3 linked regions of the Homo sapiens genome follow. The protein of the gene in region 1 purifies or fractionates together with the protein of each later gene. This does not show direct contact. Each region holds a gene or a part of one and is shown on either strand. Other genes may lie near its edges.

Region 1 (7,724 bases):
CGGATCAAGAACGTGGGACTAGGCCCAGGAGTCAGGCCCGGGGGCAGCTCACCTTGAGGACCTCAGCGCCCGTCTTGAACTGGTAGCTCTGGTCCCGGCTGGTAAGCAGGTAAATGGCTTGGCTCACATGGTTTCTGGCATCCTGGATCTGGAAGCAGGGGTCATCCAGAGGGGTCACGCCAGCTTCCATGCGGCCAGGAGGGGAGAGTGGGTGCTGCCTGCCTGCCCCACGTCATTCCACTCTCCACACTGTCATCCCTGTGCCCCAGAGGGCCAGGTCCACGCCAGGTGATGGGCATCTGGCATCACCTGGGGCAGGCCTGGTCTCTGCCCAAGCTGACTGCCCCCTCCTTTCTAAGGGATGGACACACAGTAATGCCCAAGACAAGAGTCTGTGCGAGTTGCGGAGGGAAGCAAACAGGGCGACAAGGCAGGGGCAAGGGTGCTGAGATGGAGACAGTCGGGGTGGAGGGGGCAGGGGAGGAGGCTGGGGCCCATTGGTACAGGAGCTGCCAGGGAGCATGGGCCTCATCCCCAGAGCCATGGCAAGTCCCTGGAGGCTCTGGGCAAGGGAGTGACTTTTCAGAGGGCTTCTGAACCATCTCATCCAGCCAGCTGCTGTGGGGACTCCACAGTCCCGATGTGGCCCTCGGGGCTCTCAGGCCAGGTTCTCTACCTCCCCACATGGCGCAGCCTCCAGGGCTTCAGGAAACGCCTGCCCCCAGCTTTGCTGTTAGGAAACACCCTCCCAGGCTTGCTGTGGCCACAGATCCCCAGGGCTAGTCCCTCTCCAGGGAGGCCCCGCGGCAGGCCTGCTGCCGCCTGTCCTTGTGGCTGAGCACTAGCCAGGAGGGGCGGGGTCACCTGCTGCAGCTTCCACTGCTTGTCCTCCCGGAAGGCGAAGTGCAGCAGCTGGTTGTTCCGGGGCATCTTCAGGTTCACATCCTGACAGGCAAGAGTGGGGTGAGCTGGGCAGTGGGGGGGCACCTCCTGCCACAGCCACTCTGAGCCCTTAAGCCCAGGGCAGAAATGGGGTGTGTGGTGGTTCAGGCCTTGGCCGCTGTATAGGGCAGAGGGTCTCCCAATGCCTTGGCCGTTTGGGGGTTGAACAGGGAGGTCAGGAAACAGGAAACCAGGCCCAAGAAGAGCCACAAAGAAGTGAAATGGAAAGAGGTGAAGAAAGGGGAAGGGGAAGAGGAAAGGCAGCCTCTGTGAGGCTCTGTGCGAACGGGGTGCATCTAGTGTCTACAAAGGGCAACAGATGGAGCCCAGGAGGGGGGCCTCCCCCCACGCCTTGGTGCCTGGCACAGAGTCGGGTGCAGACTGGAGTTCAGGCATTGGCTGATTCAACTGTGATGTGTGGCCAGCCTAATCCACCAATGCCCATGTTTCACTGGTCCGGACGCCAGGCCAGGCCGTGTGCAAAGAACCCCTCTCCTGCACCTCTTACTGAATCTGCACACCGATCCCGGGAGAAGGTGTGAGGGTTGCTGTCATTTTCCAAAGGAGAAAACTGAGGCCAGAGAGATCAAGGGTCCCGCCCAGAGTCGCAGGGCTTGTACAGAGAGAAAGTGGGAGCTCCCATGCTCTTCCCCATTGGCAGGATGGGAGGGGACAGGGCCGGGGGACTCACCGCCTGGCTGAGGGCATCCCCCTGCAGAGTCAGCACACCCTTCACCTGGTCTGTGCTGTAACATGTGGCGTCAGAGCGGTGCCTGTGGTCACCCCCCCACCACCCAGCCCTCCCTCCCGGCGGGCTGCCCCTCCTGTCCCATCGCACAACCAGCTGGTCTGCAGGACAGGGCTATGGCCATGCCTCCTACCCCCCAAGGTACCCATTTCCCCGGTTTCCGCCTAGCCCAGGCTCACCCACAGCTGCCTAGGATGAAGTTCTCTTGCTTGGCGGGCCCCTCAGTGCCGGAGCCCGGCAGAGTGAAGCGCAGAGAGGCCTCCTGTGGAACAGAGGGAAGGAGGGGAGCTGGTAGCGCCCACTCAGGCCCGGCCCAGTGCTCCTTCCAGAAGCCCCCCTCCCTCCAAGTCAGCGGGGGGAAGGAACAACGTGGCCTGGCCTCACCTGGGTTCAGCTGGGGTGGGAAGACCCTGCCCAAGCCCCCAGGGCACCTAACCGTGAGCCCGATCTCTGCTTATACCACATTCCCTGAACACCTCCTGTGTGCCCGCCTCGGGGAATACAAAACAGACAGGGGCAGCCTCCCAGCTTGGTTGAGGGGGAAAGGGGCAAGGGGCAGAGTCAGGGAACAAGGCAGTAGTTATGGTAACCCGCGGTCCTGGGCCACAGCAAGCACTACGCCGGTTACTTCTGTGAGCTGCCTGGCTCATTTATCTACACCCCAGCCTCGCGAAGCGGGTACTGTTATCTCCCTTTTGCCAATGAGAAAAGGGAGGCCCAGGGAGGTTCAGTGACTTGGCTGAAGTCACACTGCCAGGCAGAGGCAGAATTCTTCGGCTCCCAGATTGGATGCCGCTGCTCCCAAGGCGGCCTTCCCCGACCCGAGGCCGGGCGGGACTCAGGCCCTTGCTAGCACCCTCGTCGGGACCCGCCCCTGCCCGCACACAGGTACTTATATAATGAGGTCGGCTCGAGTTCGCGGAGGCGGGGCCCTGCCTGAAAGCCGCGGCAGCCGCACACTGTAGGCGCTCAGGACGCAGCCGCGCGGCCCCAGGTGGAGCCAGGGAAATGAGGAGGGAGGGCCGCCACGCCCGGCGGGGCAGGGCGCGGGTCGTTACCTTGAGGATGTCCTGCAGCTGCTTCAACACAGCGTGCACCTCGTCGTGCAGCAGCCAGCGGAACTCCTCCTCCTGCGGGACAGACCCGGCGGTCGCGCCCGGCCCCGCCGCCCCGCCGGCCCGCCCGCTGGCCCGCGCGCCTTACCAGCACCGCCCGCTCCGCCGCCGTCGCTGCCATCACGGTGGCCATGGCCGCAGGCCGCCGCCGAGCGCCCTCCCCACCGGCCGCTGCTCCTGTCCACCAATCTTTCTGTCCTCGGTCCTCCGGTCCTCCCGTCCGCCCCCGGCGTCTGGCTCCGCCCCCACCCGATTGGCGGAGCGGGTACCACCCCGCCCCCAGGCCGGCTCCGTGCTCGCGATTGGCTGGCGCCTGTCGGTCCGCCTCGGCCCCCGAAACCTGCGGGAGCCCTGGAACCAGACTGGCGGCTGCGGGAGTGAGGCTCGCTCCGCCTGGCCAGGGACGCGGCCGGCGGCTGCACGAGTCAGGCTTGCTCCGGCTGGCCAGGGACGCGGCCGGCACCAGCCTGGGGCGCCCGCTTGGGGGCGGAGCTCCCGGGGCGCCCCCAGGATATGATAGGGCGCTCTGCTCCACTCGCGCTCACTCATTGGCCGGCAGGACAGTCTGTCCCCGCTCCTCCTCCCTATTGGCCCGCTTGGCTCCATTGGTCGTGGTTCCAACCCTGCCGCGGACCTCGCCGCCACTCCCAAGTCCGTCTCACCCCGGACGCGGAGGTCCCGAAAACCCACCCCGGCCCCGCCGCTGCCTTCTCCTCCCACCCATCTCGCCGAGGACGAGGGAAGCAGGACTCCTGCGGCACAGCTGTGTTACCAAGAAGTGTTTTATTTTTCTTGCAGTAGCTTTGTTAATTGCACAAAATCATGTTTTGTTTTTGCCATTTAAACATTATCACACAATCCTATTCTGAAAGACAAATGTTCATTAAAAACAAAGCAAAAATAAAAATTCACAACCTTAATTACCTAGATTTGTCATTTAAAGGTTTAAAGAAAAAAGGGAGGGGCTTTCTTACAAGCTTTTTCACAAGTGTCACATTTTCTCCTTAAAAGGGAAGGATTTCAAAAGAAAGGTGAAATAGCTTAAACAGAAATATTCATAAAAAGGAACTTTACAGAATTGTCAACAATATTAAGACAAAATTGACTAACCGGTTTCATTACCGCATCTTCCCCCGCCCCCACCCCCAGTGTGTTCCGCCAGGACTAGAACAGGCTTTGTGTTCAGACAGAAATGCTTCAAAATCCCAGTGAAATGAACTGTGCTAAAAACCCGACAGGCATCTTCCCTGCCCTCCCCCCACTCGTCTTCTGCAATCCTCTAACCCAGTTTCTAATCTCTGAAAGGGGCCAAAGCTGTGAGGGGGGAAGGACCCCGCCCTAGTGTGGCCACCCTATATATAATTACATATTGCATCGTAAATGCTGGCCTTCCTTCTGCAAATTATGATTTTGGAAAATCCAACCCATGCAGAGGGATAAAAAACTGACATCCCTTGGGTAACTTTTTTTTTTGCAACATTCCAAGCCCCCCCCGGTCCCCTATCCAAGGACAAATGTAGGGCCTCTAGGATGTCCCAGACCCACCTCGGAGGGCCAGTCAGTTCAGGTAGGTCAGGCCCAGTTCTCTTCCCTCCCGACAGACCCCGGGCCCGGGAAGCACCGAAGACCATGATGCTGGCTGGAGTGAAGACACTCGTTTCCGTATCAAGAGCTGAGCCTAAGAAATGCTCATCGTTGGTCAGGCTGGGTCTGGGCCAAAGGGACAGACAGAAAGAAATACTGTCTCCACGGGAGGAAGAGGGAGAGGAGGGAGGATGGAGAGCGGTGGGCATGCAGGGGACTTGGCAGGGCAGGGTGGAGAAGGTGGGACCACTGGGAGGGGACCGAGGTAAGAGTGGCTCTTCAGAGCCAGGTGAAGAGTCTGTGGCCTAACGGAAACAGAAAGGAGCGCCCCCAACCCCCACTCCTCTTGGCTCATCACTAGTGGCCCTGAGGACTCCCTCCCAAGGGATGGAATGCAAATCCAAATACTAAAACAGCCTAGGGAGGAGCGAGCGCCCGCTGTGGCAGTGGCATCTGGGGCATGGCTTCGAGGCGGTGAGGGCCGGGCCTCCATGCTCACCTGCAGGCCGGCTGCTTGCTGCACTCCCTGGAAAGCCAGGGCCCCATCTTCTCGGGACTCTGCCAGTCTCTTTTCAGTTCACAAAGGCGTCTATGGAGCGCTGGGTGCACACTGGACGCTTAGACGTGAACATCTTTCTCAGCTCATCACCTGAGGTTGGAGGGCCCCAAGGGCCCCTCTGTCTGGAGTCTGTACTGGCTCATCTGGGCCCAAGGCCTCTCCTTGTAGGGAATCCAGTGGGGGATGGGGACATGACTACAGCCTCTTCGCTCTGGGGGAAGCTGTGGGAAGGCTTCCAACTCTCGTTGCTGATTCTAGTTCCTTGACTGGAAGGGGTTTGAGATAAGACAAGCTCGGAAGAAAAAAAGCCAGGCAGCAGTTTCTGGGCAGCTTCTATCCTGGGGCGAGAGCCTGTGTGTGTGTGTGTGTGTGTGTGTGTGTGTGTGTGTGAACACACAGCCACCTCGTCCGGGGGGCCAGTGCCCAGCTCAAGAGCTTTCCCACACGCCAATCCTGCTGACACTTGTCCCCTCCCCACCGGCCTCAGGGGAAGGGTGCTGCTGTGTGCTGTGCTGATGGCAAGTCTCAAAGTCTGTATAAAAGGAAATGGAGATAGGTGGGCTGGTCCAGAATGAACTCCCAGGCCCCCGACCCCATGTGAGGAAGAGGGGGTCAGAGGGGGGATTGGAGGGGTGAGGGCGGGGTGTCGACAGCTTAGTGTATGTAGGCTCGGTACACGGCGGACATATCGTTGTCAGACTGGTCCAGCGCCTTGGCTCTTTTGTACACCTGGAAAAAAAAGAGATGGCTCAGTCTCTGGCCCCAGAGCTGCCTTCAAGACCTAGACCTGATTCCTGGAGGCAGTGGTGGATGTGGCCAGCAGGCAGTGCTGGAGCCCAGGCTGTCCGGTTAGGAATCCTGTGTTGACCTTGCATGAAGCACCTCCGTTTCTCTGGACCTCAGCCACTGTGCTTCTTGCTCTGGGAGAAGGAACAGTACCCGGGGGATCTTGTGAGAATGAAATACACTATGGGATATAAAACATTCAGCATTGGCCGGGCACTGCGGCTCATGCCTGTAAGGCCGAGGTGGGTGGATCACCTGAAGTCAGGAGTTCGAGACCAGCCAGGCCAAAAAGGTGAAACCTCATCTCTACTAAAAATACAAAAATTAGGGCCAGGCGCAGTGGCTCATGCCTGTAATCCCAGCACTTTAGGAGGCCAAGGTGGGTGAATCACGAGGTCAGGAGATCAAGACCAGCCTGGTGACCGTCGTGAAACCCCTTCTTTAAAAAAAAAAAATACAAAAAATTAGCCGGGCATGGTGGCAGGTGCCTGTAATCCCAGCTACTCAGGAGGTTGAGGCAGGAGAATAGCTTGAACCTGGGAGGCGGAGGTTGCAGTGAGCTGAGATCACACCACTGCACTCCAGTCTGGGTGACAGAGCGAGACTCTGTCTCAAAAACAAAAAAAGAGCAAAACTGTCTCAAATAAATAAATAAATGAATAAAAAATAAAACAAGGGCAGATGAAACACCCAGGACACCTATACCTCAGAGTGAGAGTTCTCACACCTGTGGTGCTTCTGCCCCCAGGGGACATCTGGTAATATCTGGAGACATTTTCTGTCACCTGAGGAGGAGCTATGTCACTGGCGTCTGGTGGGTGGGCTACCCAACATCCTGCAGTGCTTGGATAGCCCCCCCACACAGAATGGCAGCAGTGCCGAGGTTGAGAAACCCTGCCTTAAAGGATGAGGGAGAGGAAGGGGGAAAGAAATGCTTCTGTGTGGTTGCAAAGTTTTTACATTTAATGGGAAATGGTACAAGATTAACTGTCTTTTTTTTTTTTCTTGAGACAGGGTCTTGCTCTGTTGCCCAGGCTGGAGTGCAGTGGTAGGATCATGGCTCATTGCAGCCTCGAACTCCTGGGCTCAAGCAATCCTCCTGCCTCACCTGCCTCAGCCTCCCAAGTAGCTAGGAATAGGGTGCTCGCCACCACGCCCAGCTAGTTTTTTATTTTTTTTTGTACAGATGGGGGTCTTGCTATGTTGCCCAGGCTGGTCTCAAACTCCTGGGCTTGCTTAAGCCTCGACCCTGCCTCGACCCTGCCTCGACCTCCCAAAGTGCTAGGATTACAAGGATCACAAGTATAAGCCACTGTGCCTGGCAAGATTAACTCTATCTTAAGGATTTATACCGCAATCTGTAGAGTAACCACTAAAAAAAGAATGCAGAGGCAAAGTAAAAAAGAAAATAGATAAATGAAACTGGAATTCTTTTTTCTTTTTTTTTTTTTTGAGATGGAGTCTTGCTCTGTCGCCCAGACTGGAGTGCAGTGGTGTGATCTCGGCTCACTGCCAGCTCTGCTCTGCCTCCCGGGTTCACGCCATTCTCCTGCTTCAGCCTCCCGAGTAGCTGGGACTACAGGCGCCCGCCACCACGCCTGGCTAATTTTTTGTATTTTTAGTAGAGACAGGGTTTCACCCTGTTAGCCAGGATGGTCTTGATCTCCTGACCTCGTGATCCACCCGCCTCGGCCTCCCAAAGTGCTGGGATTACAGGCGTGAGCCACTGCGCCTGGCCCCTTTTTTTTTTTTTTTTTTTTTTGAGACGGAGTCTTGGTCTGTCGCCCAGGCTGGAGTGCAATGGCACGATCTCGGCTCACTGCAACCTCCGCCTCCTGGGTTCAAGTGATTCTCCTGTCCCAGCCTCCGGAGTAGCTGGCATTAATAGTGCCCGCCACTATGCCCGGCTAATTTTTGGTATTTTTAGTAGAGACTGGGCTTCACTATATTGGCCAGGCTGATCTCGAACTCCTGACCTCAGGTGATCTGC
Region 2 (4,934 bases), on another chromosome or scaffold:
GAGACAAGAAGTACATTCACTACTTACACATAACCCTCTATGAGCAGTAAGGACCTATTTTATTATTCTTGATTTTTCTGAAAACCAATTATACCCTTTACCTGAGGGATTCAAATTCGACTCCAAACTGAGCGTGAAATGCAATGAACTTGATGATCTCAGCCTAGCTCCCGAGAGGCAGCCAACCCATGCCATCCAATCTGACAAGATATGATTTGGTGCCATTACCAGTCTATTTGGGAGCATGTAGAGTAGAGATAAAGCAACAGGCATGCAACGCCTTTCCCAAACCACAGAGAGTGCCAGTGAGTTTCTGGAGGGAGAGCTTACCTCTGCACTTCTGCTCTACTGTCCTCTGGGAATAAGTTGCCTTTCCCAAGCCAGCTCTCCAGGGAAATGAATGATTAGAAGCAGCAGGGCTAGCGGAGCATACGGATTTCAACTGAGGATGTTTAAGATGAGTGAACACTGGAAAAGGTAATATTGTGAGAAAAACAGTCTTCAATACAATTGTTTTATTTAACACACATATGTACACAGGAACATTCAGCACACATAGAGTCTATTAAGTGGAATCATTAAGAAATGTCTGGAGAGGCAGACATTTTAATTCACTCGCTGTACACAGGGAGTTCAATCATCACATTTTCATACAGGTGTCACGTCATGTCATCTTTTGCTTGTAAATTACCAATGAAGCCACATATGTCTCTACATATACAAGGACAGGTCCAAATACAGTGCCAGTGAAATCAATAAAACATTAAAGGTGTACGCTGGGATGACAATGCAGAGTTTACCTCAGTGCTGAGAAATCTAAGCTGGGATGAAGTTTGGGACTGTGGCTATTAAAATAGCCAAGGAGAGATTTATGTTAACAAGAATGCAGATATTAGTTTAGTAGTTAGAGATGACCGTCTAATCATCAAACATCGTCCACCCCAGGGTTTTGCAGCCATAGCTTTCTACTGGCCTTGGTTGCCTGTGCAGACGGAATACGTGAAAGGCCTACCCACGCTTGTGGCCCAGGGCTATTGCTCCTCTGGGCCCCCTGGCTTTGTTCTCAACCTTCGTGGCGGGGGGAGCCATCCGTGTGTTTGCGGCAGGCTGCCTACCACTCTCACACCTCTTTCCTGACACACAGAACATTTTTGTTAAAGAAAATGCTAAGGTATACATTTACCTCATCATTCCAAATAGAGATGTAGTCTACAATAAATTAATTTCCATTTAAGTTCATAAAGTAAACATATGTTGGGTATAGAGAAGACTCTGGACCCACTGGAAAACAAAGTGAGCCTTTTACCTTACATTTCTCTAGCTATGCCAAACACAACAGCACGTTCACCAAACAAATAAAGTCTAAACTGTATAGGTCTTTGTTTCTTCCTTGGAAACTACATATATAATCTTTATAAATACAATGTACATGCATGTGCCTAAATTCACTTTTGAAAGAATACCCAACTCTAAAACCAAGGAACAGTATAGATTTGCCGTCAATGGAAATAACATCATATCATTATGAAAGAGATGATCTAATGGTCTTAATTTCTTAATATGCTCTTTAAAAATCTGTTTCAGTGAAATAACCAATGTTTGTTCCTAGACTTTGATCCTACTTTTTTGTATATCAGATAAACTCTGACAACCTAAACTTTTAAGACTAAATTCTCCCATTATCATTTTGGTTCCTTTGTAAACTTCACATATTTTCTCTGAATTTAACAAATAATTTTCTATTTTTGCATGTAATAAATGATTTTGCCCAACTAACCAACCAATCAACAATTAGGCAACCAAACAACCCCTCACAAGTATATACAGATCAAGGTTTGTTAGAAACAATTCATACAAAATATAATTCTATTTTTTTCATTATTATGAGCTAGAACCAGCACAATCTGACATAAGAAGAAAGTGGTCTAGTTAAAGCTTACTTAGAAGCATAATGAACACCCTCATTGCAATGTTTGCTCAAATAAATCGAGAGCCCACATATTTTTATATACACTCCTGAACATTTGTGCCATAGTTATTACTTTTCCAGAATACTTGTTTAAAAGAAATACCTTATTAGCTTTCCTTTAGTTGATCAGTAGTAGTTTGAAGGCTGAATTATAATAATTTCATAACTGACATATGCCACACATATGGGAACTACAGGATTGCAAGTTTTCCGGGGGAAAGGGGTAAGCTCTTTCTTCAACAGGATCTGTAGCAGTAGATAGGAGAGTCTTCATTTTCGGTACACGCTATGCTTCTGAACTTGGCTCTTTATCACAAAAGTCCCTTCAAGAGATTAGTTACAGTGACTGGATAATTACATTAACTAGATCATAGGGAGTGATTATTTTTATTTTAAACTACTAAATAGACTATCATTTAAGCAAGAGATGAGCACTTCAGAAGGCTAAGTGTCTGGAAAACTATTTTCTACAAGGAAAATATTTTTGTGTACATAATTAATCATGAATCTCAAATTGGTTAGCTGTTGATAAAGAAGGTGGTAGCTAAACCCTAGGAAATTGGATTGAGTAATTTCCTAGCAATCACCAGAAGAAAAGAACATGTAAACACAGAATCTTTTTGGTAAACAATATTTTAGGTAATTCAAAGGGCAATAATTTCAATCGTGAGGACTGCCACATGACCTCAACACCCAGTGTCAGAACGGCCAGATTCAAGCAGCACTTCAGAGGTGCGGTTGAGATGGCTAAAAATGCTGATCTGGGCTGGGAGTGCAATCACAGTGTTTATTGATTTTTGTGCTTCTGTTGCACCAAGCAACAAGAGCGTTCCCAGGAACCACTGGCTTTCCCCTGCCATCTCTGGCAGGGAAAAACTACCTGGTGACAGGATGGCCACATCCTGCAGAGCATGTGTGCGTGCCTCTGAATCGACAGATGGCACGAGCGGGTTCTGCCCCTGAGAAGCATGCACAAGTGACAAGACCCGGCCGTGCCACTGGATGGCACTGGGGTGGGCAGGCCCCTGGGAACAATCTGGTGTGAGGAAGGACAGAGCAACATCGGCTTGGATAATTTAGAGAACTAAAACGCAGTCACGGCGGCAGGCAGCAGCATTAGACCATGAAGCGGTGCTCCTTCCCGTCATGGGCCATGAGGATGACGTTGCGGTTGGAAGTCCAGATGAGCCGGGCCAGCTTGAGGGCATTGTGGGAGCCGGGGGACGCGGGCTGCACAGGGGGCACCTGGTAGGTTTTAATGCAGCGCAGCTGAGGTGCCGAGTTCAGCATGCCGATGCTTCCCAGCAGTGACGTGTTCATCTGGAGGGACAGGAGAGCACATGTGTCACTTGAACAGCCCTCTCCCTTTCCCTATCACAGAGACTGGGTCGATCTCTCCTGGCTACTTTCCCCTCCATCATGGTTATTCTCCTTCACCTAAGCTTGTTCTTAACCTCTCAAAAGTTCCTTTCAGTGTGCTTGGAATTGTTCCGATGCTGTTATGGTAAATGCAGAAATCTAGAGGAATTTTATAGGGGTAGAACCTGACAAAAGGAGAGTCCATGGATCTTTAGGAAGAGGGCTAAATTATACCTCTTAATAAAATGGTTCATTTAGACAACACAGATATTTGGAAATTGTGGATATTTAAAACTGAAGACTTTCATGTTCTTTACCACAATGCTAACTGCACTCACTCCCTGAAGGATGAGTCAGCGAAGACAAGTTTTGGGATTTGTAATTAGTTCAAGAAAAGGAAGCAAAGTTAAGCAGTAGATAGAGTGACAATTGGATCAAATAAAGCTCAAGACTCCCTTCCACCCCCATTTCCCACCTACTAATACCTTCACTCTTCACTTGCTTTTTAAAAACTCGCTTTCTGGAAAGCTCTTGCTTATTATAAAGTGCAGAACCAGAATCAATTTCATCTCAACACTATGTCTGTGCCTCACTGTTTTGCTATCATACTAAGGAGAGTCTGCTGTTAATATTTTATTGACAATACCTTTTTATCAATTGATAACTTCTGCTTTTTGGCAGTTTTTCTGGATTTAAATTTTAGGTTTTCTTAATCCAGCCACATAAATGAAAAACAACATGGAAATTATGAATCATGAACAACTATGCATTCAGGTTGAAGTACTAAATACTGAATGGTAGCTGTCTAAGTGAACTGTTTCCTAAGCAACTGAGTCTGAAGATTTCTTTAGATTCTAAATATTACTTAAAATATCTTCAATAGCATTATGTGTGCTATTATAATATCACATGGAAAGAATACTGAAAATCTGGAAAGAAGCCTTGGAAATAACACTTTTTCTTTGTACTAATTTTCATTTCCAATGCTTCTCTCCAGTATAACCTCCATCTCGATGTAAGATTCTAGAGATTTGCATGAAGCATGCAGATTATGATCCAACATCTACAAATGGTTGATCCATGAAACTCTGGCAAATCCTAGGACATTTAAGATGCGTTATCACTGACATCATCCCCTGCATGTGGATCAGTGCAAAACACAAGCCATTCCTTTTTCTAGCCCTTCTCAGCAGCAGGATGGTGTCAGAGGGCGTAAATCATGGCATCTCTAGCAGAGTGTGTGCAGGCTCCACTGACATTTTCACAATTTAAATCATCTTGAGTAATAACCCTTTTAAGATGACTAATGTTACTGATTTTCCTGCATTAATAATAGCGCTGAACACAACACAGAGGTGAAAAAAAATCACTAGTGTACGAGGTCACATTTTAAAACCAAATGTATGGTTATTGTTAACTCTTTCTGTTAAAGTTCGGTTCCTGTTTCCAGCCAGGCAGTTCCTTACTGTCACCCTTTCAGAAGCGTGTTTCTTTGCTTCCTTCTCTCCTTTTCCCAAAAACTTCACAGAAGATAAAAATCAATGCCTTATTGCTTTCTTGGATGTTCCCAAATAGTTAAAATATAAATAATGATGATGAGCTTAAT
Region 3 (5,553 bases), on another chromosome or scaffold:
CTGAGGGGCAGAGTGGCCGTGTGTGTGCACGGAGGGCAAATGCTGTCTTCCAGGTTACTGTGGAAGGCTGGGTGTGTTGTAACCTTCTATGGGTCACGAATGCTGTGCAGAACACAGTAACACTCTTTCCCTTCTAAAATGTCCTGACCTTACACATTTGACCCACAGCTTTAGGGATTTCATGGACAAGCCCCATCCACAGACCTCAGATTTAAACACTCCATGTCTAGACTCTTCTTTGTAGCTCGCATCACCCATCAATAGAAAAGCCCCCAAAGTTGCAAATTCAGTTGAAAACCCTGACTGTGCTTTCCTAGAATTTAGGAAATCTATTTCTCCGTGTCAAGTTACTTCTGTGGCAGCTCCTTAAGTATGTACCATCCCGCTGCACCCAACTCCATGCTAGCAGGGCAGGCTGGCACCCCACCACTGTCCATGCAGGCTCTGGGGGTCCCACCTGCTCCTGCAGGCAAAGCTAGGCAGTACGATACACAGAGGTCTTGGTTTTATACAGAACCTTTAATTGCAAAGAACTTGAAAGCAGCCACGCTGGGGGTGGCAGTGGAGTGGAGAACCCACCACACCCTCCCCTCAGTATTCTTCACCTTCTTCAGCCTCGGCTTCCACGGAATCCACGCCCACCTCTTCATAATCCTTCTCCAGAGCTGCCAGGTCCTCGCGGGCCTCAGAGAACTCCCCCTCCTCCATGCCTTCTCCCACGTACCAGTGCACAAAGGCCCGCTTGGCATACATGAGATCGAACTTATGGTCCAGGCGAGCCCAGGCCTCCGCGATGGCCGTGGTGTTGCTCAGCATGCACACAGCCCGCTGCACCTTGGCCAGGTCTCCCCCAGGGACCACCGTGGGGGGCTGGTAGTTAATGCCCACCTGCCGGAGAAGAGGAAGAAACAGTCCATGAAGCTTATATCAAACCTGGAAATGGTGGCTGCTTTTCCTCAAAAAGAAGACACCCTGTAGGTGAACAGGAGAATTCTCAGTTCACCCCACAAATGTCACTAAGCCCTTCTCTGTGCCAGGCAGGGTGACAGTTCCAGACAACATATGTTGCCCAGGCTGGCCTCAAACTCCTGGGCCCAATCGATCCACCCACCCCAGCCTCCCAAAGTGCTAGGATTACAGTCATGAGGCAGCATGCCCAGCATTTTTTTTTTTTTTTAAGAATAAGGTATTTTCTAAAGGATTTTTGTGCCCCTTTCTTGGGTGGTAGAATTCATGTGGAAAAGGTAGGTTGAACTTAGTAATTTTATGGGCATTTTGGGGAATCTTGTAGGTGGTGTATATATTTTATTTTAACTTGGGCATTACTATAAACTGCTTCACAACATCATTCGTTCCACTGTCTCATGTAGGGTTTGATTTAAAAAAAGAATGAGTTGTTTGTGATGAAAACAGCAACAGGTGCAGTGGCTCACACCCATTATCCCAGCTCTTTGGGAGGCCAAGGTGGATTTCTTGAACTGAGTTTGAGACCAGCCTGGGCAGTATGGCAAGACCCTGTCTCTACCAAAAATACAAAAAAATTAGCTGGGCATGGTGTCATGCACCTGTGGTCCCAGCTACTCAGGAGGCTGAGGTGGGAGGATTGCTTGAGCCTGGAGGGCAGAGGTTCCAATGAGCTGAGATCCTACCACTCCTTGGGTGACAGAGCAAGACCCTGTCTCAAAAAAATTAAAAGGCCGGGCACGGTGACCCACACCTGTAATCCCAGCACTTTGGCAGGCCGAGGTGGACAGATCACGAGGTCAGGAGATCGAGACCATCCTAGCTAACATGGTGAAACCCGGTCTCTACTAAAAATACAAAAACAAAATTAGCCGGGTGTGGTGGCGGGCGCCTGTAGTCCCAGCTACTCGGGAGGCTGAGGCGGGAGAATGGCATGAACCCAGGAGGCGGAGCTTGCAGTGAGCCAAGATCACGCCACTGCACTCCAGCCTGGGCGACACAGCAAGACTCCGTCTCAAAAACAAAACAAAACAAAACAAAACAAAAAGCAGCAACGTCTTTATTTCTTTTCCGGGAAGCCTAGTAATTTTGGCCTGGGTTTGCCTCAGACACAAAATCTGTCCCCACCTTCCACTGACACAAAAGAAACCTTGCTGTCCTCTTTCAGCTTTATCAATAGTTGGTTACTAAATCTTGTGGCATTTCTCTGTTGGGCCTGTGCGTTCTTGTGCTGTGCTTTCCCTGCTGCCTCTGGCTCAGACCCCCACCGTCTCTGTTGGGGGAGACCACTGCAGTCAGTTCTGACTGGGATTTCCTACTGTGGGTGTCTCTTCTTCTCCTTCAGGGGTTAGCACAGCTGCTGGACTAGCCACCTAATTTTGTAAGATCTTGTCTGAACACAGCCACCACACCCCTTCATTTGCAGATTGATTTTGCTATCCGACAGCAGAGTGGGGTAGGTGTGACAGAGGTCGTGTAACCTGTAAGGCCTAGAATTTGTATGATCTTGTCTTTTTTTCTTTTTTTGAGACAGAGTCTTGTGCTGTCACCCAGGCTGGAGTGCAGTGGAGTGATATCTTCTCACTGCAACCTCCACCTCCTGGGTCCCAGTGATTCTCCTGCCTCAGCCTCCTCAGTAGCTGGGATTACAGGTGCCCGCCACCATACCCGGCTAATTTTTGTATTTTTAGTAGACACGGGATTTTGCCCTGTTGGCCAGGCTGGTGTCAAACTCCTGACCTCAGGTGATCCGCCTGCCTTGGCCTCCCAAAGTGCTGGATTATAGGCATGGGCCACCATGCCCATCCAATTTTTGTATTTTTAGTGGAGAGCTGTGATCACCACACTGCACTCCAGCCTGGGTGACAGGTGGGATTCTGTCTCAAAAAAGTAAATAAATAGGGTTGAGCACAGTGGCTCATGCCCGTAATCCCAACATTTTGGGAGGCTAAGACAAGCAGATCACTTAAGACCAGGAATTTGAGACCAGCTTGGCCAACATGGTGAAATCCCTTTACTAAATACACAAAAATTAGCTGGGTGTAGTGGTGCATGTCTGTGGTCCCAGCTACTCAGGAGGCTGAGGTGAGAGAATCACTTGAGCCTGGGAAGCAGAGGTTGCAGTGAACCGAGATCACACCACTGCACTCCAGCCTTCTCAACAACAAAGTAAGTAAGTAAAGCTCATCACAGATACATAGTGTAATGACTTAGAAAGAGTTCAAAAGACATCACTGGGCCAGGCACAGTGGCTCACGCCTCTAACCCCAGCACTTTGGGTGGCCAAGGTGGGTGGCTCACCTGAGGTCAGGAGTTCAAGACCAGCCTGGCCAACATGGCATAACCCTGTTTCTACTAAAAATATAAAAATTAACTGGGTGTGGTGGTGGGTGCCTGTAATTCCAGCTACTTGGGAGGCTGATGGAGATTGCAGTGAGCTGAGATCACACCACTTTACTCCAGCCTGGGCGACAAAGCTAGACTCTGCCTCAAAAAAAAAAAAAAAAAAAAAAAAAAAAAAAAAAGACATCACTGAATTAATGATCACTCTGGTTCACTAATTGATGCCCACATGCCTAGCCCATGGAATAGGGGTAGTATCCTCAAAGGATGTGGGCCTTCAGGGGCAGCATTACTCTGTGTGTCTGTTGCTTGCTGAAAGGTACAAGGACTCCACATTACCCAGTCATACCTTAAATCCAGTTGGGCACCAATCTACAAACTGGATGGTGCGCTTGGTCTTGATGGTGGCGATGGCCGCGTTGACATCTTTCGGGACCACATCCCCCCTGTACAACATGCAGCAGGCCATGTACTTGCCGTGGCGAGGGTCACACTTGACCATCTGATTGGCTGGCTCGAAGCAGGCATTGGTGATCTCAGCCACGGACAGCTGCTCGTGGTAGGCCTTCTCGGCTGAGATGACCGGGGCGTAGGTGGCCAGGGGGAAGTGGATGCGGGGGTACGGCACTAGGTTGGTCTGGAATTCCGTCAAGTCCACATTCAGGGCCCCGTCAAATCGCAGGGAGGCCGTGATGGAGGACACGATCTGCCCAATCAGGCGATTGAGGTTGGTGTACGTGGGACGCTCGATGTCCAGGTTGCGCCGACATATGTCATAGATGGCTTCATTGTCGACCATGAAGGCACAGTCAGAATGTTCCAGGGTCGTGTGGGTGGTCAGGATGGAGTTGTAGGGCTCCACCACGGCCGTGGAGACCTGGGGGGCTGGGTAAATGGCAAATTCTAGCTTGGACTTCTTGCCGTAATCCACTGAGAGCCGCTCCATGAGCAGAGATGCGAACCCAGAGCCAGTGCCACCCCCAAAACTGTGGAAGATGAGGAAGCCCTGCAGTCCCGTGCACAGATCCGCCTGAGGGAAACCAGACAACATGAATCAATGCCCGTGGAAGCCACACCACCAACCTCCACCAAGCCAGGGCCACTTCTCTGCCTCTGAAGACTTGATATGGATTCCAATCATCCATAATAAACACGCAGTACACTCTGAAGCAAAGAAAAGCAGACAAAGATCTACAGACAAATCACCATGCATACTTCAGACTAAGACCATTGCAGACGCAATAGGACTCAAGATACTGTTCTAAGTTGTTTTTTTTTTTTTTTTTTTAGATAGAATCTCACTCTGTTGCCCAGGCCGGAGGGCAGTGGCATGAACTCCGCTCAGTGCAACCTCTGCCTCCCGGGCTCAAGCCATTCTCCTGCCTCAGCTTCCTGAGTAGCTGGGACTACAGGCAGGCACCACCACGCCTGACTAATGTGTGTATTTTTAGTAAAGACAGGGTTTCACCACGTTGGCCAGGCTGGTCTCAAACTCTTGACTTCAGGTGACTGCCCACCTTGGCCTCCCAAAGTGTTGGGATTACAGGCGTGAGCCACCAGACCCAGCCAACGCACTGGTCTAGGTTTTGACAAAATGACCTCCCCTTCACAATCTAAGATCTACCCTCCTGTGCAGGACAATGGTCACATGAAGCCTTCTCTTCTTACCAGTTTGCGGATCCGGTCCAGGACCAGGTCGACGATCTCCTTGCCGATGGTGTAATGGCCTCTGGCGTAATTATTGGCCGCATCTTCCTTCCCGGTGATCAGCTGCTCTGGGTGGAAGAGCTGCCTATAGGTTCCTGTGCGCACTTCATCTACAAAAGAGACCGTATGTACTGTGAATCTTTAAGGCCTATACTCACCAAGATGGACACATTCCAGGACTGTTCACTTCTACAAAGTACATGCTGTTCAAAGTACATGACCTACATGTTGTAGGTCAACAGTGGCAGTGTCTGGTAGAAAATGTCTCTGTGTGATAACCAAAGTGCAAATGTGTGATAACCAAACTGTGATTTATGACTCTAGGAAGTGAAACTCAGCTTACAATATAAATGTCAGCACGACCAGCTCCCAGTGAAGGGAAATAAGCTCCAGCACCCCCACACAGGTAATTCTACAGGTACATAATTCTTTCCTACATGTAGCTACATCGAAGGCTGTAAGTTAAAAATGCTTACAAACTGAGAAGTCACCAGGTCAGTGTGACTTCTGCAGGGCAGTCCCATCAGGGCACCCTGTGTG

Evidence for each region. Proteins that work in one complex are often made in the same cells at the same time.
Region 2: the proteins of ROGDI (region 1) and WDR7 purify together in Homo sapiens (affinity purification with mass spectrometry; 4 studies listed by BioGRID and IntAct, with this or other methods). This does not show direct contact.
Region 3: the proteins of ROGDI (region 1) and TUBA3C purify together in Homo sapiens (affinity purification with mass spectrometry, with the first as the bait; 3 studies listed by BioGRID). This does not show direct contact.

Annotation. Positions count from the first base shown.
Region 1 is NC_000016.10:4,799,634-4,807,357, forward strand, and holds the start of ROGDI (protein rogdi homolog), read right to left. Parts: upstream 3,001-7,724; 5' UTR 2,939-3,000; coding exon 2,894-2,938; intron 2,821-2,893; coding exon 2,749-2,820; intron 1,953-2,748; coding exon 1,870-1,952; intron 1,689-1,869; coding exon 1,634-1,688; intron 946-1,633; coding exon 865-945; intron 149-864; coding exon 53-148; intron 1-52. Other genes in the region: GLYR1 (cytokine-like nuclear factor N-PAC), read right to left, coding at 5,603-5,677.
Region 2 is NC_000018.10:57,025,359-57,030,292, reverse strand, and holds the end of WDR7 (WD repeat-containing protein 7), read right to left. Parts: intron 3,290-4,934; coding exon 3,086-3,289; 3' UTR 501-3,085; downstream 1-500.
Region 3 is NC_000013.11:19,173,272-19,178,824, forward strand, and holds the end of TUBA3C (tubulin alpha-3C chain), read right to left. Parts: intron 5,124-5,553; coding exon 4,975-5,123; intron 4,337-4,974; coding exon 3,656-4,336; intron 889-3,655; coding exon 592-888; 3' UTR 501-591; downstream 1-500. UniProt on the Homo sapiens protein: Tubulin is the major constituent of microtubules, a cylinder consisting of laterally associated linear protofilaments composed of alpha- and beta-tubulin heterodimers.